Homo sapiens: one gene and its partners. The protein of the gene in region 1 interacts with the protein of each later gene in a pairwise test. Each region holds a gene or a part of one and is shown in the gene's direction. Other genes may lie near its edges.

Region 1 (7,825 bases):
ATCAACTAAATGCTTGCCTAGAACCAAGTATTTTTCTGATGTCTTGGGTTTTTAAAAGTAAGTCCTTGAAATACAGCTGGTTTCTTTCCTCTATCATGGTGAGTTTATTTCCCCTCAGGCTCTTTTTATCTTCTCCTACCCTGAAACCAGATTGCTCTTCAGTAATAGGAATATGAGAGCAGGGTGAAAAGGCATTCCCCATTAACACTTGGAATTTATTACCAGATTTCTTGGACCAAAGTTTGTTGATATCCATGAAGACAGATATGTTAGAGTAGTAAGTGAAGGAAATCACAACTCAGACAATACTCAATTAAGAGTGACAAAACTTTTCTTGGTATAGCCAAGCCAGGAAAAACGGGCAGAACCACCATGGTTTGGCCCTCTTATCACTATATGCTTGAATGTATGACTAAAAGTGTGGGATATGGCCTTGAAACATGGCTATGTGAAGAGAGACTGGGCTAATGGCTTTGACCGGTAAAGAATACAGATTGGGTGTACATATTGGGTCACACCAAAACAATGAATATCCAATGTAAGTAATTTGTAGTTGTCATTCTTAGGAAAGGAGTAGCATATGTACCTTAGAAATATGCATCAGGGGTTGCAAAGCTGAGAAGGCATTCTGATATATGATTCTGGTGGAGGTGGTGGCGGGTGAACCTAACTTATTCCCAGCATTCAATATGCCTAGTTGAAAATCATTATAATAAATTTAGTAAGAGACAAATAGCAAACTGGGAAAATATATTTGCAACATATGCAGACAAACTGTTAATAACTTTATTATAAGAAGATGTCTTATAAATCAATAAGAAAAAGTAGACACAACTAATGGAAAATGTCTAAAGAATTCAAACAGGCAATTCCTGAAAGAAGGCTAAAATTGCAATAAACATGATAATCTGTCAAGCAACAATGAAATATCAATCTTTACCTCTCAGACTGGTAATGATTACAAAGCATACATTCAGTAAAGAGAATGGGGTGGGGAAATGAGCACCTTTTCATAAATTTTGGTGGAATTGTGAATTGGTACATTTCTGGAGGTTAAGTGGGCACGATGTGTCAAAATTTGTAAACTTAAAACCCTTTGACCAGGTACAGTGGCTCACACCTGTACTCCCAGCACTTTGGGAGGCCAAGGCAGGCAGATCACATGACACCAGGAGTTTGAGACTAGCCTACCTAACATGGTGAAACCCTGTCTCTAATAAAAATACAAAAATTAGCTGGGTGTGATGGCACACACCCGTAATCCCACCTACTCGGGAGGCTGGGGCATGAGAATCCCTTGAACCCGAGAGGCAGAGGTTGCAGTGAGCCGAGACTGGGCCACTGCACTCCAGCTTGGGCGAGACAGTGGGATGCCGTCTCAAAACAAAAACAACCACCTCTCCACCCCTAAAAAAAGTCCCAAACCTTTGACCCAGAAATTTCCCTTGTAAATATTTATGCTAAGAGTTATTAAACAAGTGCACAAAATTGCATATTGTGGATACTAATAGCCCAATTGATACAGTAGTTCAAATTTGAAACAATCTAAATGCTAATCTATAGGGTAAATGGCTACATAAATGAGTGTGTATCCATATAATGGAATATTAAGTACTTGGTATTACGTTGAAAAGTATTCCTGATGTATTAAATTTTTAAAAAAGCAGATTATAGAGTAGCATTATTTTAAAAAACCATCTGTGTTAAGAAAAAAAGGCTTATATAGGCATGTAAAATTTATTTAGAATGGGAGACAAAATTATAGGGGGGATTTTCATTTTGTTTCTTTTTTTGTTATTTTATCTGTGCTAATGTATTATCAGGATAATCTATGTCCATTTAAATAAAATAAAAATAATTCATACAAGCTAACAAAAAGGTAAACATCTTTAAAAGTTTGAATGAAACATATCTCGTGGAAAACATTGTAATTCCAAGTTAGTCAAGCACCTGTGTTATATGATGGCTATAACGTGGGGGAGGAGTAATGAGCAGAATAAAACAAAAGACTGGAACTAATAGTAGTTAGTGTTATCAACAATTTTCTCCATTTTCTCTAAGTAGCATCCATGTAGCAAAATTTACTTCTAGAAGATTCAAAGTCTTTCTCTACAACTCTTTAATTAGGTTATTTCTTTTTACTCCTGACTCAACAGGCTTCCAGGTTCACTTTTCTTTGAAAGCAGAGGTTGCTGACAATATTACCAACATGGAAAGGTGGACTAGGAAAAAAAAGATGGATAGCTTGATTTATGTTGCTAACCTTGTATGGACTGTAGGACATTTAAAAATATTTTGTACTGGGTGTGGTGGCTCACTCCTGTAATCCCAGTGGTTTTGAAGGCCAAGGCAGGAGGATTGCTTGCAGGCAGGAATTTGAGACCAGCCGGGGCAACACAGCCAGTCCTCCTTCTCTATCAGCTATTTAGGAGGCTGAGGCAGGAGGATGAGGCAGGAGGATAGCTCGAGCCCAGGAATTCGATGTTGCACTAACCTATGATTACACCACTGCAATCCAGCCTAGCTGATAGAGTGAGACCCTGTTTCTAAAAAGAAAAAAATATTGCTATTTTATACAAAAAAATTTATGATAAAATGTCCTCTCCTTTAGGTTTTGTAGGTAACTGTATCCTATTTGCATTTGATCCACATGAAAGAACTCTGTTCTCAAAGTTTGCAGATGCTGTTGTTGCTTGTATTTGCTTTTACTCTGTTATGATGCTACCAAGATTTTGGTTAGATGGCTGTTATTCTAGGTGGCAGACATGCGGGTTTCCCTCCCTTTGCACAACTAAACAAGGTAGGCTTTGGTTCTGGGCAGTCACTGGTATTTACAAACCACTTATTCATGCCAGGTAATAGGGTTCCAGATTGGGTAAGTTTTATGTTCTGGTTCTTGGTATATGTTTAGACAGCTTATAAATGTAAATAAACATTCTACTCTTACAGGTGGAGTGTGGACACGGTGATATCCGTGTGACCGCCATTCCCAGCTGAAGGTTATCTCATCTATGATTTTCTTATACGTGACTGGCACCCCCTAGTGAATAGGGACTTAAGTTGACCTCCACGGTAGAAGAAATACCAGGGAAATACCTGAAGCTGTTTTAACAATTTCTCCTTGTATTAAGTATTATGCTGCAGTTTTGCGTGTGTGAATGGAAGTATGGGTAGAGATCTGTTCTCCCTAAAAACTCCAGGATTCCACAATATAGAAATAGTAATCAAATTTTTAGGTGAAGCTCGAACTAATCCGAACTTTGTTAGATCATCACTGTAAATGAATGGGTATTTATCCACTCCCTAAATGAAGAGACTTGACTGGATTTCTTTTTTTTATATAGCTACTAGAATCTGTTACACATAATTTAGGATTGAGACTTGAGAAATTGTCATTCCAATCCAGAAAACTTTAGATTTGCAAATATATTTGACAAATTAATAAATTAACATTTTATTTGGTTAATTTCAAGAATAGGGCATTTAAAGAAGTCTGTGTTTGCTTTAGTTCGGCAATAAAGTTCCTGCCACTCACAATAATCCTTATTATTCTCTGAAAGACATGTTATATTTTTGTCATCATAAATATTTATTAATTACTGTTTATAGCACTGGGTTAGGTACTCATCAAGCAACCAAAAATAATTCTTACCATCTAGGATGCTTCCAATATAAAATATAGACAATATATAACCAGGTCAATTGGGAAATAGATCATTTCAGTATGATAAAAGATAGTATTCACATTAACAGTGTGAAAGGGCAGGAACAATAAGACACTTGACTCACTGGTCTTTAAAATGTAGCATCCAAAATGAGCAAGTGGAGAAAAGGTTAAACAAGTAGGTGACACATTTAAAAAACAAGTAGATGAAAGGACTATTCTCAAAAATCTTGTTTTATGTGAGAAACCATCAAATTATGAATTCCAAGTACTGTATTTTTTTTACTTTTCAAGGGTAGGCTCTCCTATACCTTATCTAAACAATTTTTCAAAATAGCCACAATTACTTTGTTTTCCTCTCTACACTAAATTGCCCTTTGCCTCTTGAGCGATTATCTTTTTCAGATTCACCTCAACTTCTTCAGGTTCAAGCGGACTTCACCTGTAAGCCCCTCTCGGTTCTCCCTCTTCTCTGAACTACTAATGGCCTAATTTAGCACAATTATATTGCTTTGTTCATTCCATGTATAGTAAAAGAGTCTACAAAACACATGCAAGCATTCATGCAATTATATGTTGATTTGTTCATGGGTCGACCCCAAAGTCTATTCTCCATCGCTGAAGCATGGAAGACAAATACCCTTCACTTCTTCAGAGGCATAACACATGCACTTCTCTTGTCATGGTGACAGGCATGTGCTGGTGGAGGTCAAAGAAACAGGAACACAAGTGAAATCGAGGTGAGTGTCAGGTAAGGACCAAAGCACCACGCCTACCTCATCTTTGCCCACAGAACACCCATTCTTCCCGTGTCCTGTTTCCCAGGACGTATCCGGGGCGGATAAGAAATCACCCGTGGGGAGGCGGTGAACTCCTCCGCAGGGGCCGATGCCCGGGACAGGGGCGGGGAAGGCTAATGAGGCGACTTGTGCGGGGAGGGGCCAAGGAGGAGCCCAGGTGTCCCGCTCCCGCTCGACGGCGCGCGCCTGCGCGAGCCCAGTTGGCGTCGCACCCTTGAGCGCAGCATCCCTACGCCAGCGAGTCCCAATACTAGGGAGGGAGGGAGGGAGGAGGGGCGGCCGGCCCCCCGCCCCCGCGCGCGGCCACGTGACGCCGGCTGAGGAGATTGGAGGGGCGGCTGCGCGAGGCTGCAGACTGGTGCAGCGCACTGTGCTGGCGGCTGGGCCTCCTCCACCTCCTCGTCTTTCTCCCGGGAACCTTGACGACGCCTTCCGCTTGGCCCTGCCTTCTGCCGCATCCCCGCCGCCGCGGCGCCTTGAGGAGCAGGAGAAGACGCAGCCGGGCCGCCGCCGTTAGAGGGGTTCCCGGCCGCCGCTCGCCCCGTCGGCCGCCACCGCCTCCGGGGTCAGCCCTCTCTCTGGGTCTCCGCTTTCTCCTGCCGCCAGCGCCCGCTCATCGCCGCGATGGGGCTCCTGGACTCGGAGCCGGGTAGTGTCCTAAACGTAGTGTCCACGGCACTCAACGACACGGTAGAGTTCTACCGCTGGACCTGGTCCATCGCAGGTAAAGCCGCTGACTTCCCCATCCTCGCTCGGTCCCCCGCGGGGGGTCACCGGCCCCTGGTCTCGCAGCTCCCGGGCCCGGCCCCACAGGCCCCCGCGCCCTGCGGCTTTCGGATGCTGCGGATCAGCGGAGGGGCCGGCGCGGGCACTGCGGTTGAGCACTGGTTAATCTGATCCGAATGTTAAGGCCTCCCCTCCCCCGACACTCGCAGGGTTTTCTTCTGAGCTCCCTCCATCTCTCATCAGCTCTCGGATGCGGGAGCTGACATATCAGATGGAGCCTGTGCAGCCAGGAGCTCCTCGCAGGAGCCGCCCCACCCTGTGCTCCCACATCTCCCGAGCTCGCCTCCCTCTTCCCCGTGCACAGGATTCCTTTTAACATTTAGTCCTATTTTGTATGGAGAGCGGGCTGGGGAGGAAGGAGGGCTTCAGGGGCAGCTGAAGGTACAGGAGGTTTCTTCAGCCTCCTGGTCGCTTTGACAGAACCCTGCTAATCTTTTCTTCTATCTAGCTCCTTCATCTATAGTATAATTCGGACTGAAAAGTAAAATAATATTGTTTGGCTCCTTGAACCTTGAAGAATGTTAGTTTCCGAGGCATTTTCAACAGCAAATATGTTTGAAGTGATTGTCTATAATGGCTTTGCGCACTGCAGTGCAGTCAGGGGGAGGGGGAGGCCAAAACACCGGGGAAGAAATCAGTCTTTAGGAAGGGGGTCTCTACAGCAACACCTAGAGGTTGTCCCAGATGCCTACATATATACAGTTCTTAAATCAGCAAACTTTTCTTTAGCTGTTGCAGTTAATTTGGCAGGGCTGTCAATTGTTTGATTTATGCAGCTTTCCTAGCGTCCAACTGTGATATTATATTTTTACATTGTACTGTTTATTTCTTCATTTGCTTCGCTGCTTTTGATTTTAAAGCATTTAAAAGTCTTTGAAATCTAAAATAAGGTTTAAAGGATTTCAGAAATGATTTTACGAGGTCAATTTTTCTGGTCCTTTTGCAGTATCACACTGCATCCTATCAGTGAAGGATATTAACGTTCCATCTTATGACTCTGCCTTCCCTACTTCGAAATGAAAATGTACTCCTGTAGTTTTTGTGTTCATTGTTGTTAGAGGAAATTAGACAGTGGTTACAGCATGAATGTAGTCCGATACATAGGGCTTATGTTTTGGGAAAAACGTATGCTGGAATTATTTTTGTGAGAGACAAAATGATTATTTGGCATTAATACTGCATTCACTTCTTTAGAAAAGTATGTTCTTTTTCAGAAGATCTCAACTTTGACACTGGGAAATAAGCTATTTAATAAGCCATTACAGCTGAAAATGGTTAAAAGGCAGTTTTCAATGGAGTGTTTCTTCAGTTTTTTTTTTTGTTTCTATGCGCTATTACACTGATGTTACACTGTACCTGCAAAAACTGGGAAAGATGTGCCCTTCCCTTCACGTCTGTGATTTCGGTTCTTTAAACGTTGCATCAGGGCTTCCCATTACACAATTGTATAGAGCTGAACATCAGACAAGTTCTTTAGCAGGTAATTGCACTTCGCACACCTAGGAGTCAGACACTGTTGAGATACTCCAGTCTCCATATAGCCAGAGCCACACCCAGGAGTTCTCGGTCCTGTCATTCCTATCCTATCCCGGAGCTTTCCCATCTCTTGAGTCTCAGAAGGAAAAATTGAGGGCAAAGGTAGAATACACCTTTCTGTGATGGTGAATTCCTTCCTGATGATGTTTGTGTAAAAGAAACCACACACACACAAATGAAACAGGAAATTTTGTGCAGTTGCCGCATGTGAAAGCTTGCTACTAGGCTTCGAAGGGCATATAAAATAATATAATATTGTGGGCCAAGCCTGAGAAGTGAGAGTAGCCTTAGAACACAAGTGACCTCTCACTAGCAGGCCGAAGGAAGGTATTTGCCTATGCTTTGACTATCCACTTACGAAACCTGAGACTGCTTCCTTGCTTTCTGTAATGAGCTACCTTATGTAGGCAGATGGTATTTCTTAACCAACAGAGAGGCTTAGTGGATATAGTCTGTTCTGCTGTACTGCTGTGTGAGGAGGAGTATTTTTCAGGTCCAGGCCGAATAGACCTGAAGTCTGTGGTGTCCCATTTACGTTTACTCTCCCTCATTCTATGCCCCTCGTGTTCCTTTTTTTTTTTTTTTTTTTTTTTTGGACTCATTCACTCTGCTCTGATTCCACCTCTCAGCATAATTTGATGAAAATCTGGGTGGGGGATATCAAAATAGAAAAGTAGCTTATAAGATGAGGTTAAACAAAAGTTGGTGAGTCAAATGTTTGGAAAGAAGGGGAAACAGAAATGGGCGGGATAGAAAGATGGTCTTGAGAAATAGTGATGAGTGTGGTGAAAGGATGCAAATTATTGAGGGAGAGCAAGAAATGAGGTAGGCTCCTTGTCCTTGGCTGCTCTCATTCCTAGTGCTGTAGTTACATGCTTCTTTCATTCTTTTATTAATTCATTAAATGCCATTTTGTGCTATTATATCAAATGGTGCTTTAAATATCCAAACATATCCAAAGCAATGTCTGAAAACTGGGCTTTTCAGAGGCACATATGTAGCAAATACAAAATATGGTCCATAATAATGTTAACAACAA
Region 2 (7,975 bases), on another chromosome or scaffold:
CTTGCCTAAATGTACATTCCATCATATTTTGCCTTGTGTGTGTGTGTGACAATCTGTGTGGTTCTGGCATGTGTAGGTAAGTGGAAAGAGAAATGACAAATGGATGTTATGGCAAGGAGCTGAGATCGTTTTTTTTCTTTCCAAGAGTCCAACTGTTATCTTAGTAACTTCAGAAACCCAAGGACATCTAAGATTTTACTTTGCAATTAAGAAAAGAGATCCCTTTCTGAAAGTTTTTCTTGAATATTTTTTAGTTGTGCCAGTTGCTCTAGGAAAATATTATTCTCCTGGCTTCAAATTTTTTCTCTAATAGTTTCGCAAATATGTCCGGCACACAAAACACTTCATTTTTTTTTTTCTGGTTGTTTAAATGTTTAAAATTGTTGGGGAACGGAAATGACCCTAACTTTGGTGTAGATAAATATGTGCTACTTGTCTCATCTCCTGTACTTACTCATTCCATTGTTATGCCTGAGAACCCACAGTGTTGTGGAAAACACCTGATTCGTGCTAGCCGGGCTTGAGAGATGGGAGACCCACGGAAGCAACACCTGTCAGGAGCATGTCTCCCTCTCATGGTCATTCGTCAGTACTACAGAAACCAAATGCACCCTGGAACAGGAAAGCAGAGCTCAAAACACTTACTTCGTAGGTGCGGTGTATTTTTTTCAAACACCTCCCCATTCTGACCATATCGCCTTTCTACAGAGACAGCTAGTTACATTGGGATAGTTGCTAGATCACTTTCAGTCTCTTCTGATGAGCATTCAAGTATAATATTTTTGAAAGTCTGTCTGCATTTTTTAAGACTGGATAGGAATTTATATAACGAATATAGTCAAAACCCTTCTTATCCCTAATAAGAAAACTTTCTAAATGAAAAGCCTACCCAAAGCAAATATTTCCTTTCACTTATTCATTCATTCACTCAATTGTATCTAATACAGCGATTCTCAACTCAATCCTGGCTGCACATTAGAGTTCCCTGAGCAGCTTTTAAAAATGCAGATGCCTGGGCCGTGCTTCCAGATGATTCTAACTTGATCTTGGCTAGGGCCCAGGCCCTGTTTTTTTTTTTTTTTTAGACAGAGTCTTGCTCTGTGGCCCAGGCTGGAGGGCAGTGGCACGATCTTGGCTCATGGCAACCTCTGGCTCCCAAGTTCAAGCAAGTCTATGCCTCAGCCTCCCAAGTAGCTGGGATTACAGGCACCCACCACCACGCCCGGCTAATGTTCGTATCTTTAGTAGGGATGGGGTTTCACCATCTTGGCCAGGCTGGTCTTGAACTCCTGATCTCATGATCCACCCGCCTCGGCCTCACAAAGTGCTGGGATTACAGGCGTGAGATGCCGCGCCCGGCTGGCACTGTTATTTTTTAAGCTGCTGCATGATTGTAACATGCTGCCAGGTTGAAAACTACTAAGCTAATATTCCCAAACATGTCTGATGTGCCAGTCACCGTGGTGGTGCTAAGGATTCAGTGGTAGAGACACTGCCACAGAAGGTGATAGCTTTCTGCCATCAGGATTCACAGGCCAAACATACCGTCTCCTCTGTCTAGAATACTTCCCTTGTTCATTACATAATTAATTCCTCATGCTTTGCATCTTAGATTAAATATCACTTATTCAAAGACATTGTTGCCCTTCTATCTAAATTAGCTCCCATATTGTTTGCCCTCAAGGAATCCTTTCTCTTTCGCTTCATGACACTTATCTCGGTTGTAATTACAGGTATTCCTCCGCCATTGGAACTCTCACGATCAAAACTCAGGACCAGATAGATTTTAGTAATGAGGAAGAAGAGGCAGACTTACCTGAAGAGTGTAAAGTTTAAGCTTCAGGGCTCTTGTGGTAGGCTGGATAACAGATCCTCAAAGATGTCCACATCCTAATCCTAATCCCCAGAATCTATGAATATGTTGCTTTGCATGGTAAAAAGAACTTTGCAAATGTGATTAAGTGAAAGATCTTGAGATAGGGAGATTATTCTGGATTATCCAAGTGTGCCCAATATAATCACAAGGGTCCTTATAAGGAGACAGGAGAGTCACAGAGGAAATGCAAGGACAGAAGCAGAAGTCAGAGGGGTGTAAAAATGCTCTACACTGCTAGCTTTGAGGATGGAAAAAGGAGCCATGAGCCAGGGACGTAGGTGGCCTCTAGGAGCTGGAGAAGGCATGGCAACCAACTCCCCTGAGAATCTCCAGAAGGAAAGCACTTCCCGCACTTTGATTTTAGCTCAGCGAAACTGATTTTGGACTTCTCACCTCTTGAACTGTAAAATAATCCTTGTTTTAAAGTATTAAATTTAGGGTAATTTGTTACAATGACAATAGGAAACCAATATATAGCCCTCCCTTGTTCAGGCCCCTTCCAAGGCCCTGGGAAGCAGTGCTGATATGGTTATATGTTTTTGTAAAGCTTGCAAAATTAAAATACTTTACCTACAATTGATTAAGATTTCTCTCTTTCCACTGAGACTTCCGGAGTATTCTTCTACTGGCTAACATTGGAGTGACTACAGGCATTTTTGGGATCCAGCTAAACAGAAATGCAGCTGGGGGTACTTTGGTTTGCATTTAATGGGAGACGTTCATGTGGTTCGTGGTCACTTCCATGCACTATTAACTTATTGCTGGAGAGTAGGAATGGCTTCTGCAAATGCTCCTGTATTAGTCCATTCTCACACTGCTATGAAGAAACACCTAAGACTGAGTAATTTATAAGAAAAGACGTGTGATTGACTCACAGTTGAATCACAATTCTGCATGGCTGGGGCAGCCTTAGGAAACTTACAATCATGGCAGAAGGCACTTCTTGACAGGGTGGTAGGAGACAGAATGAGTGCTGAGCAAAAGGAGAAGCCCCTTATAAAACCATCAGATCTCATGAGAACTCACGCGCTCTCATGAGAACAGCATAGGGGAAACTGCCCCCATGATTCAATTATCTTCACCTGGTCCTGCCCTTGACATATGGGTATTATTATAATTCAAGATGAGATTTTGGGCAGGGACACAGCCAAACCATATCAGCTCCTAACAGCCACTGTGTCAAAGTGCCCAGGTGTGGTAACATGAAGGAGCCATAGAATATGTGCAGCATGCAGTTCACTTTAATCTCATCAGAGAAAAAAGCTGTCTTCACCATCCCTACATTTTTTCATATCAATCAAAAGCAGTAATTCATGAAGAGGAAGAGATAAATTTGAATAGAAGTAATGGAGAGGCTCTCAGATTGTTGGATGAGTCAACTAATGAAGAGTAAATCTTATTAATACATTGGGAAAAGCTTTAATTTCCTTGCTAATTTGTCATAGTTTATAGGCATCAGTGAAGATATTATAAACTCAATACACAACCAGAAGGAGGACATCAATAACAAACTGATTAATAAATGTCATCAATTTAACAAGTAATATTGCTGATTAGTCATAGCACAATAAAATGTGAAATGCCCTAAGATCTTATAACTTTTTTTTTTTTGAGATGGAGTCTTGTTCTGTCACCCAGGCTGGAGTGCAGTGGTGAGATCTCGGCTCATTGTGACCTCCGCCTTTTGGGGTTCAAGGATTCTTGTGCCTCAGCCTCCTGAGTAGCTGGGATTACAGGTGTGCAACACCGTGCCTGGCTAATTTTTGTATTTTTGTAGAGCCAAGGTTTCACCATGTTGGTCCGGCTGGTCTCGAACTCCTGACCTCAAGTGATCTGTCCACCCCAGCATCCCAAAGTGCTGGGATTACAGGTGTGAGCCACCGTGCATGGCCAGATCTTATAATTCTTACATGAAAGAAATGTAATAGTGATTTCCTCTAATATGACAATAGTCCTAAACCTTTACATGACACTTTCAAGAACAAATTATTAGATGGTGTAGGTGGTCCTTGAATGAATGAACCATGAGATACCCTAGAGCAGGGGTGTCCAATCTTTTGGCTTCCCTGGGCCACATTGGAAGAAGAATTGTCTTGGGCCACACATAAAATACACTAACACCAGCAATTGTTGATGAGCTAAAAAAAAATTGCAAAAAAAAAAAAACTCATAATGTTTTAAGAGAGTTTATTAATTTGTGTTGGGCTGCATTCTAAACTGTCTTGGCTGCATGCAGCCTGCAGGTGTGGGCCAGGGGTTGGACAAGTTTGCCATAGAGCGTGGCTTGGTTGGATGAGGGTGCTAGAATTCAGAGGACGGTCACTGTGCAGTGAGAGTTGTCTTGGCTGTAGGACTGGAGTTGGTAAAATGAAAAAAAGAAAAAACTAGTTTTGCATGAAAGAATGTTTCCAGCATATGAATGTCCCACCACACTTTTAGTTAGTCTTGGCTGTACATGTTGCAATAAGTCAAGGAACCCTACAAAGTAGGATGGAAGGATTCAAACTGCGAATCGCTTGAACCCGGAAGGCGGAGTTGGAGTTTGCAGTGAGCCGAGGTTGAGCAACTGCACTCCAGCCTGGGCGACAGAGTGAGACTCCGTCTAAAAAAAAAAAAAAAAAAAAAGATTCAAACTGCTTTTGAAAAAAGTAAAAATGCAGGGTTATATTTTAGAAATAGTGCAGCCAATCATTAGTGGCTATTCCTAATATGTCAATTTCGGGTCTATAGAAGACCTACCTAGAGGCCAGCAACTATTAATTGATGCTTATAGCACCTAATGAAACTGCCCTTGCCTTTGAAGCCCCCATTTAGCTAAGGGGATGGGATGTGAATTTAGAATAGGACGTGAAAAGTGCAAAATGCTCCCGGACTCAGATCGGATAAACCTCTTCTAGGCTGTCTTTCTCTTCTGAAGCCACAGTTTTGATGCTTTCCCTAATTCAGAGCAGGCTTTCCCGGAGTCTCTGACTCAGAGCAGCCCGAGCCACCGTGAGGACCGCCCACCTGCAGGGGGCGCGCCGGGGGCTGCAGCGCGAGACCGCTCTGGCCCAGCGGGGACTCCGACTACCCCTGTCTGGCCCCTCCCCTCCGCCCGTCACCGCCTCCTTGAAGCTGCCGCTGTCGCTGCTGCTCGTTCGAGTCGCAGGTACTTGGCCCGGGGCCTGTGGGCAGCGCCTGGGCTAGAGCCACTTGATATCTCCTGCACCGTCCCTGTAGCACTGGAGGTCCAGTAGGCCTGGCCGGGGCCCTGAGGGGCGAGGGTGCCCGGGCTTCCCACACCTTCCGCGGCGACTGGAGGGAGCCGGGCCGAGGAAGCGACCGCGGGTCCGTGATGGCTTCTTCGCGGTCTGTGTGTTCACGAGGGCCGGGCAGAGGCCTGCGAGGGTTCTCGTTTGCGCTTGCGGGTTAGGGCTGTGGTCCGGGGAACCCCTGGGCAGCGCGGGCAGCCCTGGCTCGCGGTTAATCGGGGGGTGGAGCGCGGAAGCCACGCCGCAGGTCCAGCTGCTCGGCCGGGGCGAGACGGTGCTTTCGCGGCGTGTGCTTGCAGGAGCGCACAGTTCAGGCGCCGGGACAAGCTGTTGGGGTGTGAGTGAGCTCTCCAGAATGGCACATGGCTCCGGGGTGCCCGGGTTAAAAGGAAGGATTTGCACACCTTCCACTTAGGGCTCGGGTAATCGCAAACTTCCTCCCTTAATTGGCTTGCAGTGCTAAAAAGCAGATCGTTCTCTCTGAGGTTTTCCCAACAGTACCTCAAGAAAATAACATCTGTTTTTTGTAACGTTCCACGGTATTCGGAATTGGCTACAGAACATAATAAGGTAAAAATATGCCATTGAATAGTAGCGCTTCTCAATCTTTAAAAAATGACGGTGGTACCTAGGAGCCTCTTAAAGAGCTGTAATATGAGTGGTGTGGGGATTATTTTTATGTTCTAGTAATAGCTATTTTCAGTGCTTATTTTATGTCAGACACGGTGCCATTGCTTTAAATACCTGGTACCTTTAATCCTTGAAGCAACCCTATCAGGTACCATTTCCATTATACAGATAAGGAAACTGAGGCACCGAGAGTCTGACTTCTCCAAGGTCAGAAAGCTAGCAAAGGCTGAGCGAGATTTGGTCTCATCTCCCTTACTTCAGTATCCCTGCGTCTGTTATCTAGCCAAACATGTAGCGCTGTCTAAGAGTTTTATCAATTAGATTTGTAGCCTGAACTGATTTCTCTCAGGCTTAGTTTTCATGGTTATATGCAGGAGTCCTACATGAACTCCTTTTTAGTTTAAAAGGAGTTTAGTAAGAAAACTGTTAGCTCATTAAGGACTATAGTGATAATAAAGTTAAACTTGGACTGGGGTTCTCACTGTGCCAGTACAATTTGATTTGAAATAGAGATGAATTTGTTTGGTTGTTAACACACTTTATTACATTTCTTCATTATTTATGTTTCCATACCATTTTTTAGTGAGTTCACTTTGCCTTTGCATTATTATGGTAGCAGTACCAGAGGGAAATCAAAGATTTTTTGATGATAGTAAGTTAATATTTTACAGAATACAGGAAAGGCACTGGAGAGAGGATGTGAAGTGATAAGGAATTTTTGGCATGTTATATAAATTGTGTTACTATGGAAAACAAAGGATTCTCACAGTTCTTTATCAAAAGGGAAATTGTATTTCCCATTGTGGAAATAAGTTGGGCTTTATAGTCCCAAACTTCTTAGCCTTACCTATTATAGATTTAAGAATTTGCATATTCGGCATTCATATAGCAAGCGTATATTGAGTGCCTTCTATGGCCAGGCTCTGTTCTAAGCACTGGGGGATGTGAGAGTGAACAAAATGAAGTCCTTGTCTTCCAGGAGCTAACATGTCACTGGAGGAAGGTGGGGTTGGGGACGATAAGCGGGATTTGTGAAAGTTAACGTATCTGGAGTCAGATGGTAACAGTTACTAGGAATAAAAATAAAGTAGCAAAGGGGGATAGGAAGCACCAAGGAAGGAACAGGTGCAGTTTTAAAATAAGGACTGGTGCCATGGAAAAGACTCAAGCAAAACTGAAGGCGTTGGGGACCGCCATGCAGCTGTCTAGGGAAAGAGCATACCAAGCAAGGGCAAAAGCCCAGAACCCTTCAGTCTTGTTAGAGGGACAGCAAGAGAGGAACAGCAAGGAGGCCAGTAGATTTGAGCACCTGGAGGGAAGGAGGGTGAGACAAGGTCAGAGAGCTAATGGGCCCAGGTAAGGACTTTTGCTTTTACTCTGAGTGAGAAGGGAGGTGTTTGGAGGGTTTTGAGCAGAGGAATGAGGGGATCTGGCTTAAGGTTTTTAAAGGATCACTCTGGCTGCTGTGTTCAGTGTTGACTGTAAGGGCAAGGATGGAAGCAGGGAGACCTGTTAGGTTGATGCAGTAATTGAAGCCAGAGAGAATGGTGGCTTAGACCAGGTGGGTAGTAAGAGAGGCAGTAAGAAGCCGTCGTATTCTGAGTATTGCTGATAGGATTTGCTTATGGTTTGGATGTGCTTATGAGAGAAAGGGTGAAGCACGACCCTGTGGCCTTTGGCCTGAGCTATTGGAAGGCTTTAGTTAAACAGTGTACTGAGATGGAGAAGACTGAGTGTGAAGGTAGGTGGAGCCAGTTTTAGTCAGGTTTGAGATGCCTGTTCAAGTGGGGTTATAGAGACGGGAGTTGAAGAGAAAGGTCCAACTGGAAATAGAAATTTGGGAAGTCACTAATGCAAGCTTGTGCAACCCAAATTTGTAAACTTACTTAAAACATTATGAGATTGATTGTATTTTTTTTTAAGCTCATCAGCTATCGTTATATGTGTGCCCCAAGACAGTTATTCCACTGTGGCCCAGGAAAGCCAAAAGATTGGCTACCCCTGCACAGAAGGGTAGTATTTAAAGCCATGAGCCTATGAGATCTAGTGTAAGGAAATGAGAATTGAGCTCTAGGGCTTTCCACATTCAGATATTGGAGAGATGAATAATTACAAAGGAGAGGCTTTTGAAGGTAGGAGGAAAAAGAAGCGAGTATGGAGTACTGAAGGCCAAGTAAAGAGTTTTTCAGGGAGAAAGTGACCAACTGTGTCTCCTCCT
Region 3 (7,020 bases), on another chromosome or scaffold:
GGTTTCTAGACCGTGTTAAGGTCTGTATTTATTAGTTTTAGGACTGTTAGACCTTTTGAACTGTTCATTACACTTGTCTTTTGTGAACAGCATTGGATAGGAGATTTTTTGCCATTACCTAGCCGTGTGACCTTTGGCAAGTCAGTCTTCTGGAACCTAGTTACCCATTGGTAAATAGAGATAACACTCCTTACTTGCTTTCCACCATTCCAGATACAAACCAGTTGCATATATCTCCATCTTTTTCTCCTTCCTCATTCTAAAGGAAGACAAAGACATGAATCCGTCAGGCCCAGGCTCTTCACTGTGCATTGCATTCCAGCTCTTTTCCTCTCAGCTCTCATGAAACTTGGTCAACAATCTCCATTTGTCCCATTGATTTTTTGTAACAGCAATGCTTTTGTTCTCCCATGGGTCTTTGTGGAATTCCTTTCATGAACCATCTTTCCTTTCCTTTTCATCTGCTAGTCTTCCTCAGGGTTTTGACTTCTCTGGTAGTCTCTCCTTGACTGTCCAAGATAGCTCACTTTCTGTCTTCTTAGTGCCCTCCTGAACTCTGGATAGTGTAAACTTCTGGAAGGTAGAGATGTTTTTATTCACTTTTGTATTTGCATCTGAATTATAGTAGATAATGTTTAAATGCATAAATATATGACTTACAAGATGATATAGGTGAAATCTCAACTATATATATACATGTATGTATGCACACAACGTCTGTCTTTATGTTCATGTATATATGAATTCAGACTATCTCTAAACCTGTTGCAGAATATTTTGTCTCTGGGAAGGAAATCCTAAATCTGTATCCTGTCCTCTCAGCAGGCAAGGATCCAGGCTAATTGCCATCCTTTGTCCTGTCAAGCTTCCTTGTGGAGTGAAAATAAGCCACAGTACAAGGTTTAAAATTCTGGTAGGAGAGACAAGTTATGGTAGGTAGAACTAGAGTGAAAATAAAACTGGGGAGGAGACAGAGCTAGTTTCTGTGAGAAATAATTGAGTTAATAGAGACTAGCTGTAGAAGTAGAAATAATGAGTTTCAATTTACTCCATAAACAGCAAAGTTTAAATGTATTACTCACTTTTCTCCATGTACTCTAGCTCCAATTTGGAGCATATTATTCCCCAAACTGTCCTTTGAAGTGTTAATTAACTAGCTATTTAATTATTCTCTATTATCCTCTTTGGAGATTGGGAGCTAGAAGAGCTGCTAAAACCCTGAAAAATAATCTCTAGGCCCAGGGAAGGAGCTGTACCCTGTGATTTGAACTTAATATTTAAAAATGGCTTATTTTAGACTAAACTTTAGAGCACAGCCTCTCCATTTTAAATGTGCACATAAATTACCAGATCCTGTTAAAACGCAGATTCTGATTCAGTTGGTCTCAGTGAGGCCTAAGATTCTGCATTTCTTGCAGTTCTCTCAGGTGAGGCCGATGTGCTGGTTCATAGACTACACTTTGAGTAGCAAGTTTAAAACAGAGAGCATTAGAAGTAGGAGGGCTTCTGAAGTTAACTCTGCATACCTGAATTCATGGTTGATAGAAGGCCTTGGCTTGGAGAAAGAAAATATTCTGAGAAACACTTCTGCCATGTCCGAAATAGTTCATCCCATCTTGGGAATCCCAGAGGGGACCACTACATTATAACAATAACTGATATTCATGAAAATCTGTTGGAATTCTGTTCAGTGACTATCTAAAAGGTAGGCAGGAAAGTATTCATTAAAGTTTAGATATATTTTCATCAGGATGATTAAAATCAGTTATATGGAGAAATCCAAAAATGTGGAACAAAGTCACCCATGAGGAAATCATTCTTGAAAGGTAAGCACAGTGTAGTACTTTGCTAATAGGCTTTTTGAGGTGTCATCTGCCACTTGACATCTTTGTCTAGACCAGCACTAGCACTCTAGGTTGTTCTTTGGGTGAGAAGCATAAATAGGGAAAGGAGGCCTGGCACTGAATCTTGTCTTTATCACTTAATGGTATTGAGATCTTGGGAAAGTTCTCAGTTTCCCTGAGCCTGTTTTGCTACCTGTGAAACAGTCATATTACCATTTCATCCTAGAATTTTTAAAGAGAGGATTGGTGAATGTGCTTGGCATAGTTAATATCCTTTTACCATTATTTTTCTCCTACTTTGATCCTGGTAGGCAACTTGCTGTGTGTCATTTGGCAATTAGTGATATATTGGCTTGACTTCTATTGGTGGGAGCTGTTATGAGGTATGCAGTGCTTCATTTTGGAAATCCCTGGCGCTCAGAGAGCAGCAGATATTCTTGCTTCTCAAAAATAGTGGGGCTCCCATGGATTTTGTCTCTCTACACATTTTATGTTGTCCCATGTGGGAAGAAGTTAAAGTGAGTGGTGACTTGTCCCTGGGTCCCTTTCCTAACAAAGTGGTCCTAAGTTCAGGCTCCTGTGTGCTGTGTAGGCTTCTCTAGCTGAGGTCGTGGTAAGATCTCTTCTGAGTCCTCTGGAGTTAGGGTGTGGCTGGAGTCCAGTATCTTTTGTTCTGTAACCTTTCAGTTGCAGTGGCCTTGGTCTGGAGAGTTGTGATTTGTCCTTGGTTAGATCACACACATCCAATACTTGGCTTTCTTACTCTTTCCCTCCCAATTTTGCCTGACTCTTAACTTCTGTGGGTTCTTATCCTTAAAAGGCGACTACTTGGAAATGAGAATTCGGTTGCTGCTCTGTGATTGTTCCTGTGTCCTTCCCATCTCTGAGGTTTTGTTTATTGGCGGCATGTTCCATATCCTGCCATTCTCTGCTCAGACCATTATCAAAACAACATTTAAGACGACTGATTCGTTAAAGACTCAGCTTTGACTTCTCAGAAATAAGACTGCATGTCACTATCATACTTTACCTTTTTAGTAGTACCTGAAACTACTTCTAACCAGTGACCTGGATTTAGGAATCTCTGGTTTCAAAATTGCTTCTAACTTGTTATGACTCTTAGAAAATAATTTAACCACACTGGGCCTAAATTTAGTTTAACCTGTAAAATTAGGATTGGATCAGTTTTTCAAACATTCTTTGTTGGTTGGGGTGGGATGGGAATGACAAGAAAGCTCAGTAGGTAGGTTCTTCATTCAACCAATATTTTGTTTATATACTAAAGCCCTTCACTATTAAATAACTTGGAAAAACTACTGGACTGGATGGTCTCTTAAGATTGCAAGTGCCAAGCCTTGGCACTCTAGGACCCATCCCTTTTAACAGTAGCATCTATTTTTAGACTAGACAAGGATACCTAAGCTGTATTACAAATATAGTTCCAGACACATCATGGTACTCTACATCTAGTCCGGTTCCTGATACCTTTAACCAATGCTCTGGCCTGGCCATTCCTGCAGTGCCTGTCCTTCTCCTTTGGCTTATGCTATCCTCAGCAGCACATGCATTATTTGTAAGCCTCCCTTACCCATTTGATACTACCCAATCAAGACTCTAGTATAAATGTTCTGTCCCTTCAAGAAACCTTCCCCAGTTGGCCATTTTCCCAAAGTACATTTTCCACTCTTATGGTTCAGTACACTTTGCTTTGTCTGGTAGTTTTATGTGTAAAGCTCAGAGGACTGGATCTTGGGTTTCTTTATAGTAAACCATCCAAATGCCTTGCATTGTACTATACTGAAGGTAACATGGATCCAAGTCATATGGCTTAAAAATTCTTTTCTCTTTCAGGATCGAATCATCAATTTAGTTGTTGGCAGCTTAACATCCTTATTGATTCTAGTAAGTATCCTCATTTTGTGCCTCACCCAGGCTCTTAGCCAGTTTTGAAAACTTTATCAATTATGGTTAACTTTCCAAAAAAAGCTAAATAAGTGCTTTTAATTTTATTACCACAAAATTGCAGTTGCTAATTGGAGTAGCTAATTTAATTCTGCCCCACCCCCAGGTTGAATATGTGAAATGGTACAAGTCAGACAACTTCGTTTTAAGATAATTGAGTTTACCATGTTTTGCCTAGTAAATTTGTAAAAATGTCAGTGGCTAGTAGCCACTTCCTTCTGTCATCTACCATAATTCCCCATTTCTATTTTGTTCCTGAAGAACATATCCATTACCCTTTGGTCAAGTTTTAAAAGATTTGGTCACAGTGTATAGTAGTTGTACTGTATACATCCTGTATACAGTATACATCTGGGAGCTATTACAATAAAATTTTTAAAAGCTGTATTTTCCATAGTTTGACATTTTTCTGGCACATTAAATTTAAGAGAATTTTTTTCCATGGCTTCTTAATGAAAAGATTGCATATAATGCTGCATCTGTTAGAAACAGAACTATACAACATTAGAAGTCTTTCAGTGTGTTTCATAATGTTATAGCAAAACCAGCTTTGATTATATTCATTTTGCTAGAAATATTTAAAATAACAAAATGGCTAGAACTTTTACCAGCAGAATCATTAATCCTGGGAGTGAGGTTTAGTTAATGAAGTTATTTTGGCATCAGCTAGTATTACTGATGTTTTCTCTCCTTTCATAAGTAAGGGAAAGTTTAGAAAAGAAGTACTAAAATAACTCGAACATATTTATAATTACTGTATTAACATTCTAGAAAGCAAACTTGGTGGCAGATGTAATTTTATAACATGAAGCATTTTGTAGTACTGTTGCCTAGACTCCAGTTGGTAATTACCAAGTCTTGGAATTACTGTTAAGGCCTTACATAATTTCTCTTCATACAGGTAACGCTGATAAGTGCTTTTGTTTTCCCTCAACTACCTCCAAAACCGTTGAATATATTCTTTGCTGTCTGCATCTCTTTGAGTAGTATTACTGCCTGCATACTTGTAAGTACTGTTGAGAATTTAAACAGTGTTCTTGAGGGTTTAAGTTGCAATGCACAGGACAAAAATTTTCAGCCTTGGGTCTATACAAAAGGGTATCTCTTAATTATATCCTCATCCTCCCCCTAAAAGTATGTTAGAATTCTCAATAAAATCTGAGTCTTCTCCTTTTCTCCTAAATCCCAAAGTTGTAACCCCAAAGAGAAATTCCACTCCCTTGATAGCTTAAAAAAAAAAAAAAAAAAAAAAAAAAAATTAGTGGAAAGACGTAGGTGGCCAAAGATTTTAATTTACTTAATTCATCTTCACTCAAGGACTACGTAAGGGCCAACAGTCTTTGGGAAATGCCAGTTACTGCTAAGGGAAGAGATAGAGCACTCTGGATTTAATTCTAATTATTACAAAATTAGTTTAATCTACATGTTTGTTTCCCAAAATGGAGGTATTAACACCAAAACCTCCTGGGAAATCTAAAGCTGCAGTTGTTGTAAAAATGTTTGATTTACTGCAAATGTTTCTTTTATGGTGAAGAAACAAAGATGGTGGTGGCTCCTCAGTGTTCATTCATTAGTTGGCTACATTGTTTCATGTTCCTTTAGAGGCAGAATCAAAAGAAAAAACAATAGTAATTTGCTTATCTGAGTTAAAATTAATTAAACCAGGAGACACCTCCAAGTGTTCTCATTCACTGATCCTGCTATATACTCCCATGACCCGAAGAAGAACTAGCCCATCCCACTTTGGGAGCTTTCCTGTTCCCCTAGCTTGAAGCCTAAAGTGACTAACAGACAATGAACTAGTTTAATCCAAATATATTATGGAAGCCCTATTTTACGGTCTGAACCAACTGTATGAATCATGAGTCTAAATGTTGTCTTCCTTTCCTGTTAAGTAGTATGCCCAGGTATATGTTCTTGGATAGCTTGCCAGATGACTGGTGGAGTATACAGGTGTGAATATAGAGGAAAGTAAACTGAGAAAGTAGGAATAAGTATGATCTTGGATGTGGAAACTCAGAGTAAGAATTAAATTCTGGCTGTACTGATCTCAGGAATGTAGAGACCTCAGAATATGGAGAATGTCTGTCTCATTTAGGGGAATAAACAAATACTAATGAAATTTGAAATTGGTAGAGAAAATGTTATATTTCAAATTTTAATTTATAAACTTTAATTCTTCTTTTAGATCTACTGGTATCGACAAGGAGACTTAGAACCGAAATTTAGAAAGCTAATTTACTATATCATATTTTCTATCATCATGTTGTGTATATGTGCAAACCTGTACTTCCATGATGTGGGAAGGTGAGGCTGCCAAGGAGAAGTACTTACCAGGACTCTTCAAAATGATACATTAGGACAGTGAGTAATTTTTGGATAAGGTATGCTGAAGAATCTCCTGCAGAAGTCTGATACATGATTTTCATGTTAATTGTAAATGTTAATTCCCTCTTGCAAGGGAGACATATCCTAGATCACTTTGCTTTTTCTTTAAGGAGCTGATGTTGCACCTAAACATTCCAACCCTTAAAGCTAAAACAGCACAAAAAAATTTCACTTTTGAAATGAAATTTTTATAATTGTATGGCAAAAGGCTATGTAAAAACAAATCTTGCATCTTAAGACAAATATTCTTTTATTTCTGTTAAACTGAATATACAATTGTTCCCTAGGCAACCAACTTTTGCTTATAACTACAATTTAATTTCACGTTGACAAAACACAGTGAAAAGACAACTTTGTGAAGATCTAATTACAATAATAAATAAAATAATTTATACAAGGGTTTTTTTTTCTTGACTTTTCTATAGGGGTCATATTCATTAAAAAGCCCAAAAGGCTACCTTTGCCTTAACCCTTCTGTAGTACAGGAATGATTCTTAGATTTGTTTCCTTTTGTTATAGAAGCAAATATTGTTTTTTTAAAATAGCCTGAGATGAGAGGTTATATTGTACCCCACCAGCTAACACACTAAGTGGATGACAAACTATTCTCTCGGTAATTTATATAGCAAAACATCTAATAAATGGTCATGGTATCAAGGATAGGTAACATTACTTCCTTCCTCATTTAGTTTTACTTCAAAGTGCTAACTTTGTAAACTAATGACAGTGGTTTCTGAGGGGGTGAAAACTGCTTAGATTCTGGTGGGTTTTGTTACTATGCTTATCCATATTCCCTTTAAAAGTAACAAAAAACCTGTAGTGAATT
Region 4 (7,955 bases), on another chromosome or scaffold:
AGACTTTCAGACAAACAATGAGCAATTTCTCAGTATAAGTATGACCCATCCAGTATTTCGGATATACTTAAATGATTATTCATTGTTTATCTGAAAGTCAAATTTAATTGAGTTGAGCATCATGTATTTTATCTGACAACCCTACTTGCCTGGGCGTGATATTTCAAAGAGCAGAGGAATGGGGGGCTTTGGGGACTTCCCATTTAGTGATTTCAGCAAGGGGAACCTAACACCTGCTTTTGTTGTTGGCAGCCCTTGAGGCAACTGCTTCAAGCACAATGCTTAAGGCAGTGTTCCAGTGCTGGTGTAGGCTGACCAACTTGTTTTGGTTTTCCCAGGCCGTACCCATTTTTAGCACTGAAAGTCCCACATCTTGGGATCTCTTCGTTCCTGGCAAACCGGGATGATTGGTGATTGGTCACCCTAGTGATAGACATACCCAGAGGTGCTGGTGGAGATGTTAGAAGACAACAAATACACAAAGAAACTGCTAGGTGTGTCTCAAAGAGTCTCAACATTTCTTCAAAGCACATATCCTTGGCTCCATTTTAAAGATAGGCAGGTTCAGGGGAAGTATAGGAATCCTGGATCTGAAAGGTGTTGGTTCTAGAGATCACTAAAGTTCAGCCTCTATTTTTTAAATGCTTATCAAACATTTGCAGAGATACTCTGTCACCCCATCTGGTGATTATTATTATTATTGTTATTATACTTGAGCATAGGCACTATGGTAAGAATTTTATGTTCAGTATCTTGTGTAATCTTTTTTTTTTTTTTTTTTTGAGATCTGTCGGAGCGCAGTGGCACCATCTCGCCTCACTGTAACCTCTGCCTTCCAGGTTCAAGCACTTCTTGTGCCTCAACCTCCCGAGCAGCTGGAATTACAGGCATGCACCACCATGCCTGGCTAATTTTTATAGTTTTAGTAGAGACAGGGTTTCACCATGTTGACTAGTTACTGACTAATTTGGAACCCCACTGATCCTACAAACTGCCGGAAGTTTGCCTCTGCCCTGGGTTTCAAATAGCGGCCTCCTACTTAACCTGAGAAGTGTAGAAGGTTGAAAACTTGGGCTACAGCAGCCCGAAGCCTGTCCATCCTCCCCCAGCCCCCGGCTGTTGTTGCTCAGGGCAAAGGCTCTCTATTCACACATTTTTTCACAGCAGAACAACCTCCCAAGCAACTTCCAAGCAATAAGAGTCTGGAGACAGGCATTCTCTAGAGATGGCTCTGGTCTTTGCTTGCTAGGTGCCATTGGGAAAATTGTCTCAGTATCCCATCAGTCAAATTGAACAAATAACATTGGTTCCCCAGAAATAATACTAGTTTTATTTCTACTTTGCTCAGAAATCACATCAAACAAGCATCCTCCCTGCAGGGGCAACCCTGCAAAAGCTGGCCAAGTTTTTATGTTGGTGGAGGTGGGTTCTGTGGACAGCTTGTTTCTTCACATTGCTAGTAGCTATGTGGTGCTCCTCAGGCATTCTTTAGCTGAGATTTTTCATGTGATTATTTTGGCTTCCAGGCTACTCTTTACTCCATCCCAAGCCACGGGCATCTCCCCCTCACAAATACACCCCATGGCCTGCCCCTATCCATCCTCCCATTGTTCCTTGAACCTTCAGGAAAGGCAGAAGATCACCCTCCACTCTCTACCCCTGTCTGCCAGCTCAAAGTATGTGACATCTCTGGCCCTCAGCCCTCGGTTCTCTTGGCCAGAAAGGCATAGTCTAGCCAATCGGCATGAAGTTGGGTGTGGAAAGTTCTAGCCACAGTACATAGGACATAATATACTGCCTGCCTGCCAGCCAGCCAGTCTTCTATGCCAGGGCTAGGAAAGCTGCCTTCCAAAATTTGGTCTGGGAAGACATTATCCTGGGAATGAGAAGCAAAGCCTCAGCTCTAGAAGCCCAAATAATAGCAGATGACCCAGGCTTTCACTGGTACGCGCTTCTCTCTTCCCCTTTATGTTCTTCTCTGTGCTCAGGGAGAAGTTGGCCACTAGATTGGGCACTTGATCCCTTATCTAGTTTTTCCTGGGAGAAATTCACTGGACTTCTCTGAGTTTTAGAGTTCAGTCTACACAATGAAGCAAGGAGAACCCACTTGATCTGTGGCCTTCAATAATCTGATACTATGGGATCATAGAGCAGAGAGTGGAGGTAATATTCAAGTGTTTTCGAGTTATTTGCAAGAAAGCTGCACAGTCAAACCAAGCCATGATCAAGGGGGCCCAGATTCTCTGAGGTACCATCAGAATTGCATGAAGCAAACTGTTTACGAGTTTTATACAATCCTGCATTGTTCCCACAGGCACCCAGTACAGGCAGCAGGCTGCACCAAGAAGGCTGGCAGTGCCTCTTGAGGAATCCCTTGGCAGTGCAGGAGCCTAGCTGGACTCAAGAATATTTTGCCAAGGGCACCCAGCAGAACCAATGGAAGCAGAATCACAGAAATAGGTGGGGGTATGTAGATAAAAATGGGCTCTGGAGGACCTGGGAAGATACCCTATGAGGTCTGTAGGGAGCCCTCAGGAAAGGTCTGCTGACGAGGTACTGAGGCAGAGTGTCGGGATGTACAGAGCAATGAGAACACACTAGATTCTAGGGAGTTGGGAACCTTAAGGCACTGGGATGAGTGAGACACGGTCACCTGGCTGGGTCCCTTTTCTGGCCCTGGGCATAAGAACAAGCATAAGAACAAGGCGAAGACAGGGAATGTGGAGAGAGAAAAAGGAAACAGAGACAGACACATAGAGAGAAACAGAGACAGAGACAGGTAACAGAGACAAAGAGATTGAGACTTGGGGAGAGGATAGAATGAATATTAAGGCAATGGAGATGGAAGAAAGGAGAAGAGAAATGTGTGTTAAGGGAATGTGGTTGATAAATTGGTATCTGTGGGTTTATTGGGAACACATATTTTCTTTCCAGTAGAGTTGCTGTCCCCAGAGCTGCTGCTGAGAACTCAGGGGAAGCTTTGTGAGAGGGCTCAGTCTGAGTGATGTCCCCTGTGTGGAGAGCTGTCTCATCTATTCGAGCTGTGAAGGATCATTTGCCTCATCCTCTAAATCTGAACTCCCAAAGTTTGGGCTCACTCCTGCCATCTGATGAGCTGAGGAGACACATTTGGCGATTTCTTGCTCTTGGTCCTCCCCCTTCTCCAGGGCCATTCCGACAGTGACCATCCAGAAGTTTATTGCTGGCTCAATCCTACAGTTGAGCTTCCAAAGCAGGCATAGTCTGTGGCTGGCGAGCAGGGCTGGGGAGGGCGAGGGGCTCTAGGACCCTTTTCCATCAGTCACATGGCCTTAGTCTCGTCTGCTCTGGAAAGCTACTATTATACCGTTTTGCAAGGGGCAGCATTTCCAGAGATCCTTTTTTCTTGGGGCTGATACAAGAGCAAAGGATCTAGAGTTCTAGTACTCTAAGCAAGCCTCAAACGGTGCAGGATTTGGCCCCAGTGGGCCCACAGGGGCATCTGCCAAAGACTCGTCCATTTCCTAACAGCAGAGCCCAAGCCAGTAACATGTCCAAAGTCACAGCCCAAAGAGAAAACTGTAAGACACAATCTTGCCTTTCTCCCACCCCAGGAAGGTACTAGTCTCTGCTCAGTATCTCCCTCCTCTTCTCTCCTCTCCCAAGGCAAAATCACAGGAAAAGTTCCAGGAGACCATACCTTCCTTCTCCGGAGTCTTCCAACAGGTGCCCCTCTTATTATATGCCAGCCAGTTGTTTTAAAGGCCATCCATGGGAGGACACCGGCCTCTAGGTCAAGGGAGCTGTGAAGGGAGACAGGACTGACAAGGAGCCCAGACAGACACTGTTTAAGATTCACCTGTTCTAGAAAACCTTCCCAGGCTGATCCCATCTAGCAGTGGGCATTTAAATACCTTCACAGTCTTTAGAAATAGCTTATTGCTAAGGCAGGTTTTATATAGTATTTCCCTGTTTTTGCTGCTTAGCCATTTTTGTCTTACCGCTTCTTTCTCTGTGGCAAGGACTATATTTCGTTTCTTCTCTCCACCCTCACTGCCACCTGCTGCTTCACTCTAACCCACTCCCTGCCTCTTGTCTGCCTGGCTTAAGCTCTCTGATGAAGATATTACACTCTCAGGATAGAATACTGACTACCTGATTCCCAGATCGTGTTCTTGACTTGTCTCGAAGTCGATTATCCTTCTTGGAAATCACCCACATCTTCAACGCTGGCCTTTTCTTTAACCTAGTCTGTGAACTTGCATAGGTCTTGCCCACTTCTGGGTCTTTATTATTGTAGCTATAAAATTATTACAATTCTAGCCTCCCCCAGCCTAATCACAATCTGTTCATCGAATTGACAGCCTGCATTTTGTCTTCATGCAGTTGAAACTGAGAAGGATTTGGAGGAAATTATCTTAAAAGACAATTTTTTCTTCTCTATTGTGTTCGTAGAGCTGGGGGTGGGGGTGGGGGAGGAACGCTTATTTTCCAAGGAATCGGGAGGGGAAAGGTGGAGAGGGCCAAGGGCAGCTAGGAGTGATGTGGGGAGCTGGAGCAGATTCGGAAGGACTTTGGGAGCTAATATCTAGGTTTTTGACTCTGAGCCCCTGTTGGGGCTCTCACTTCATGGCTTCTCACGCTTGTGCTGCATATCCCACACCAATTAGACCCAAGGATCAGTTGGAAGTTTCCAGGACATCTTCATTTTATTTCCACCCTCAATCCACATTTCCAGATGTCTCTGCAGCAAAGCGAAATTCCAGGCAAGCCTTAGGGAAAAAAGGAAAAACAAAGAAAATGAAACAATTGGCAGTGAAAGGCAGAAAGAGAAGATGGAGCCCTTAGAGAAGGGAGTATCCCTGAGTAGGTGGGGAAAAGGGGAGGAGAAGGGAGGAGGAGAGGAGGAGGAAAGCAGGCCTGTCCCTTTAAGGGGGTTGGCTGTCAATCAGAAAGCCCTTTTCATTGCAGGAGAAGAGGACAAAGATACTCAGAGAGAAAAAGTAAAAGACCGAAGAAGGAGGCTGGAGAGACCAGGATCCTTCCAGCTGAACAAAGTCAGCCACAAAGCAGACTAGCCAGCCGGCTACAATTGGAGTCAGAGTCCCAAAGACATGGGTAAGTTTCAAAAACTTTAGCATTGAAGATTCAAGAGGACACAGGAATTCACAAGAGAATTTCCAACTTTGGGGTTCGGGGGTTCCATGGTTTAAATGAGTCGTGTTTTGGCACTTGTTTTCTTTTTAAATTCCTTAACATTCAGTTAGATTAACTCCTTCTCCGCTGTACTAAGCATGATGCTTTATTACCAAAGAATTCCAGCAGCACGTGGAGAGTCCCACAGATCTCTGGAGAGAGTGCCCAGCTGGATGGATGTGGTCATGTGTCCTCCTACCCCCTCACTTCCCTCTATCTTCTCTTTTCCCTTGGTTCCAAGGCCCTGGCAACGGTTGGGTCAGCTTGCCCTCCTGGTTCTGCTGGAGGCCACTGAGCACTGTCTAGCCCTCAGATGTACAAAATAACTGCTTGCTTGATGCAAACTTTGAACCATGTTTGGCATTAATAGGAAGCTGGGGATCGGGCAAGCTGGACTCAGGCTTGGCTATGGCTGAGGAGGCCATTCTCAGGTTCAGGAAATGAAAGTAAAGTCCTCAATGGCTTGACCATGGGAAACAGATATGGGTAGGAGTGTGTGTGTGTATGTGCATATGTGCATGTGTGTGCACATATAGGGTTGATCATTTCTAGCAAATATCACAGACACAGCTTTCCTGAAGGCTCTTTGCTGTGACAAGGAGGATGCTGGGACATTAGGGCTCTTGCTAAGTTGGCTGAGTATTGAGGGCTTTTCTAGGTTCCGTGAACAAAGACAGAAGCTATGAAGTTCTGGTGGTAGTTTCTACTCAGAGTAATGTGTGCAGAGCACAAGGGTCTTTGTCCCTATTGGACTCCACAGAGTCCTGTAGACATTGCTAACATTTGGCAAAACAAAGATAGCAGCTTAAACACATCCTAAATGAAATGAGACTCAGTTGCCCCATGTATTCCCTATCAAATGTAGCATCCAGTAGACAACATCCACAGAGATCAATTTGCAATTATACTGAGCTGGTTCAGCCTTTAGGTTGTTTCATCATGAAACACAGAGAGAACACTTTGAAGCATGTGTTCAGGTAAAACAGGAGGGAGAGCACTGGACAGGGAGTCGGAAAAATCAGATTCAAATCCCAGATCTGCTACTTATGAACTATGTGACCTTGGACAGGTCACTGAATCACCACTTCCTCATCTGGAAAATGGGGACAGCAATAACTACTTTGTCTACTTTCAGGGTTGTGAGAATCAAGTAACAATAATGTCAAAGTCCTTTGAAAATGGGCAAGATCTATAACAACTGTAAATCATGATAATACCTACTATTAGACAATAATGTGTATACAGGCGAACTCTTCCTCTTTCCAGGGTGGTTGGGTTTTCTTTGCGTGCTTGGGTCAGAATCATTTGACCAATTATGTGTGACCAGATGAGAGGTGAATGTTGGAGGAACTCAATTCCTGCCCTGGGTAACATCAGGAATCCTATCTAATGTCAGCCGAGCTGACTGGATAGGTTGTGCATTAAAAACAGAGAGGGAGTAAAGAAGGATGTTGAATATTACTTCCTCAGGGGATGAAATCCCTGAGGAAAGGCAGGAACAAATAAAGTGACCACAGGGACAATTGCCTGTTATGGAGGCTGGGTGGTTTCCTCCAGAGGAAGAGTGCCACAGATAAGGGCACGATTGAGGATGCACATTGGGTCCCAGGTCCTAAGGGTGGACGATACTTGGGCCAGGTACATATGATGGAGCAGCCACTGAGTTTTCATTTATTCAATAACAGAGTATCTAAAGTACTTTGAATTATAGATCATCTCTAACAAGGTACTGGACTGCCACTACTTCTGATGTGGAGTGCACTGCTGTTCAACAATTGCAGTAAACACATTGTATCATGGAATCCGGGATTGGAAGGAACTTTAGAAGTTGTCTGAGCCAACCTTCAATGCGGGATTCATTTTTACAACAACCAATTAAATGTTCGTACAGCCTCTGCTTAATCACCTCCAGGAACAGGGAACTTACTACTTCAACCATATAGAATCCCTTAGGATTGGAAGCAAGGAGGAACACTGATTCAGTAGTGTCTGCACAAAAGATTTATGGGGAAAATGATAGCTCATTAATTTTTGCCTTGATTTGGAAGGGGAATGTTCCAAGTGAGTCTTTGGGATAATGATGGAACCAGAAAGGAGCAAAAGAGCAGTAGCTGATTATTCTCTGCTCTGAAACACAATGCCATTATTGAACAGCAAAACATTGTCTGCAAGCCTGTTGTCGTCTGAGAACAGTGGCTGTTACCCTGGTAACCAGACTGTGATGCCTCCATCCAAAAGTGGCTGTTTGCCAAGCAGTGTAGTTTTGGCTGGCTTGCAGTAAGTGGGTGTAGCCCAGGCAAAAAGTGTGGCGGCAGAGCGGGGGTCCAGTTTTATAAAATGCCCGAAGACTAACTGAGTCCCATCAAAATGGCAAGAATGCCCCAAGAATACCAGGAGCCAAAAATAAACCAGATCCCAGCCAGCATGTTCACCTAGTCTTCCTGGAGACACTGACTAAAATAATCAAGTGCAGCCTTCTCTACCTCACTTCTCCCTTTGGCCGTGCAGAGCCAGAGGAGTTCTTGGAAAGCCAGGCAGTTTGAAAGGTCTACCCTGCTTTAGGGGGCCTTGGGCTTGGCTCTGAGCTAGGAAAGCCAGAAGTTTACTTAACAGGCTGACAACTGGAACTGCTCTCTCAGAGCGATCTGAGTAATAACAACCTCAACCCTGGGAGGTGGGTGGGAGGGGAAATATAGTCTCCAAACCCATTAAGGTAGAACTCCAGCCAGTAACATCACTTTCCCCCATTGCTTTTGTCTATCGTCCTGAAGCCTTGAAAG

Evidence for each region.
Region 2: the proteins of ELOVL4 (region 1) and ANKRD46 interact in binary tests that used the Homo sapiens proteins (3 or more experiments, as listed by UniProt).
Region 3: the proteins of ELOVL4 (region 1) and TMEM243 interact in binary tests that used the Homo sapiens proteins (3 or more experiments, as listed by UniProt).
Region 4: the proteins of ELOVL4 (region 1) and PLP1 interact in binary tests that used the Homo sapiens proteins (3 or more experiments, as listed by UniProt).

Annotation. Positions count from the first base shown.
Region 1 is NC_000006.12:79,944,543-79,952,367, reverse strand, and holds the start of ELOVL4 (very long chain fatty acid elongase 4), read left to right. Parts: upstream 1-4,981; 5' UTR 4,982-5,088; coding exon 5,089-5,188; intron 5,189-7,825. Other genes in the region: uncharacterized protein LOC124901350, read left to right, coding at 4,553-4,981. UniProt on the Homo sapiens protein: Catalyzes the first and rate-limiting reaction of the four reactions that constitute the long-chain fatty acids elongation cycle.
Region 2 is NC_000008.11:100,556,760-100,564,734, reverse strand, and holds the start of ANKRD46 (ankyrin repeat domain-containing protein 46), read left to right. Parts: upstream 1-4,975; 5' UTR 4,976-5,024; exon of another isoform or gene 5,025-5,697; intron 5,698-7,975.
Region 3 is NC_000007.14:87,195,733-87,202,752, reverse strand, and holds the end of TMEM243 (transmembrane protein 243), read left to right. Parts: exon of another isoform or gene 1-573; intron 574-1,526; exon of another isoform or gene 1,527-3,695; coding exon 3,696-3,746; exon of another isoform or gene 3,747-4,707; coding exon 4,708-4,812; coding exon of another isoform or gene 4,813-4,938; exon of another isoform or gene 4,939-5,071; intron 5,072-5,994; coding exon 5,995-6,117; 3' UTR 6,118-6,593; downstream 6,594-7,020.
Region 4 is NC_000023.11:103,771,903-103,779,857, forward strand, and holds the start of PLP1 (myelin proteolipid protein), read left to right. Parts: upstream 1-4,937; 5' UTR 4,938-5,093; coding exon 5,094-5,097; intron 5,098-7,955.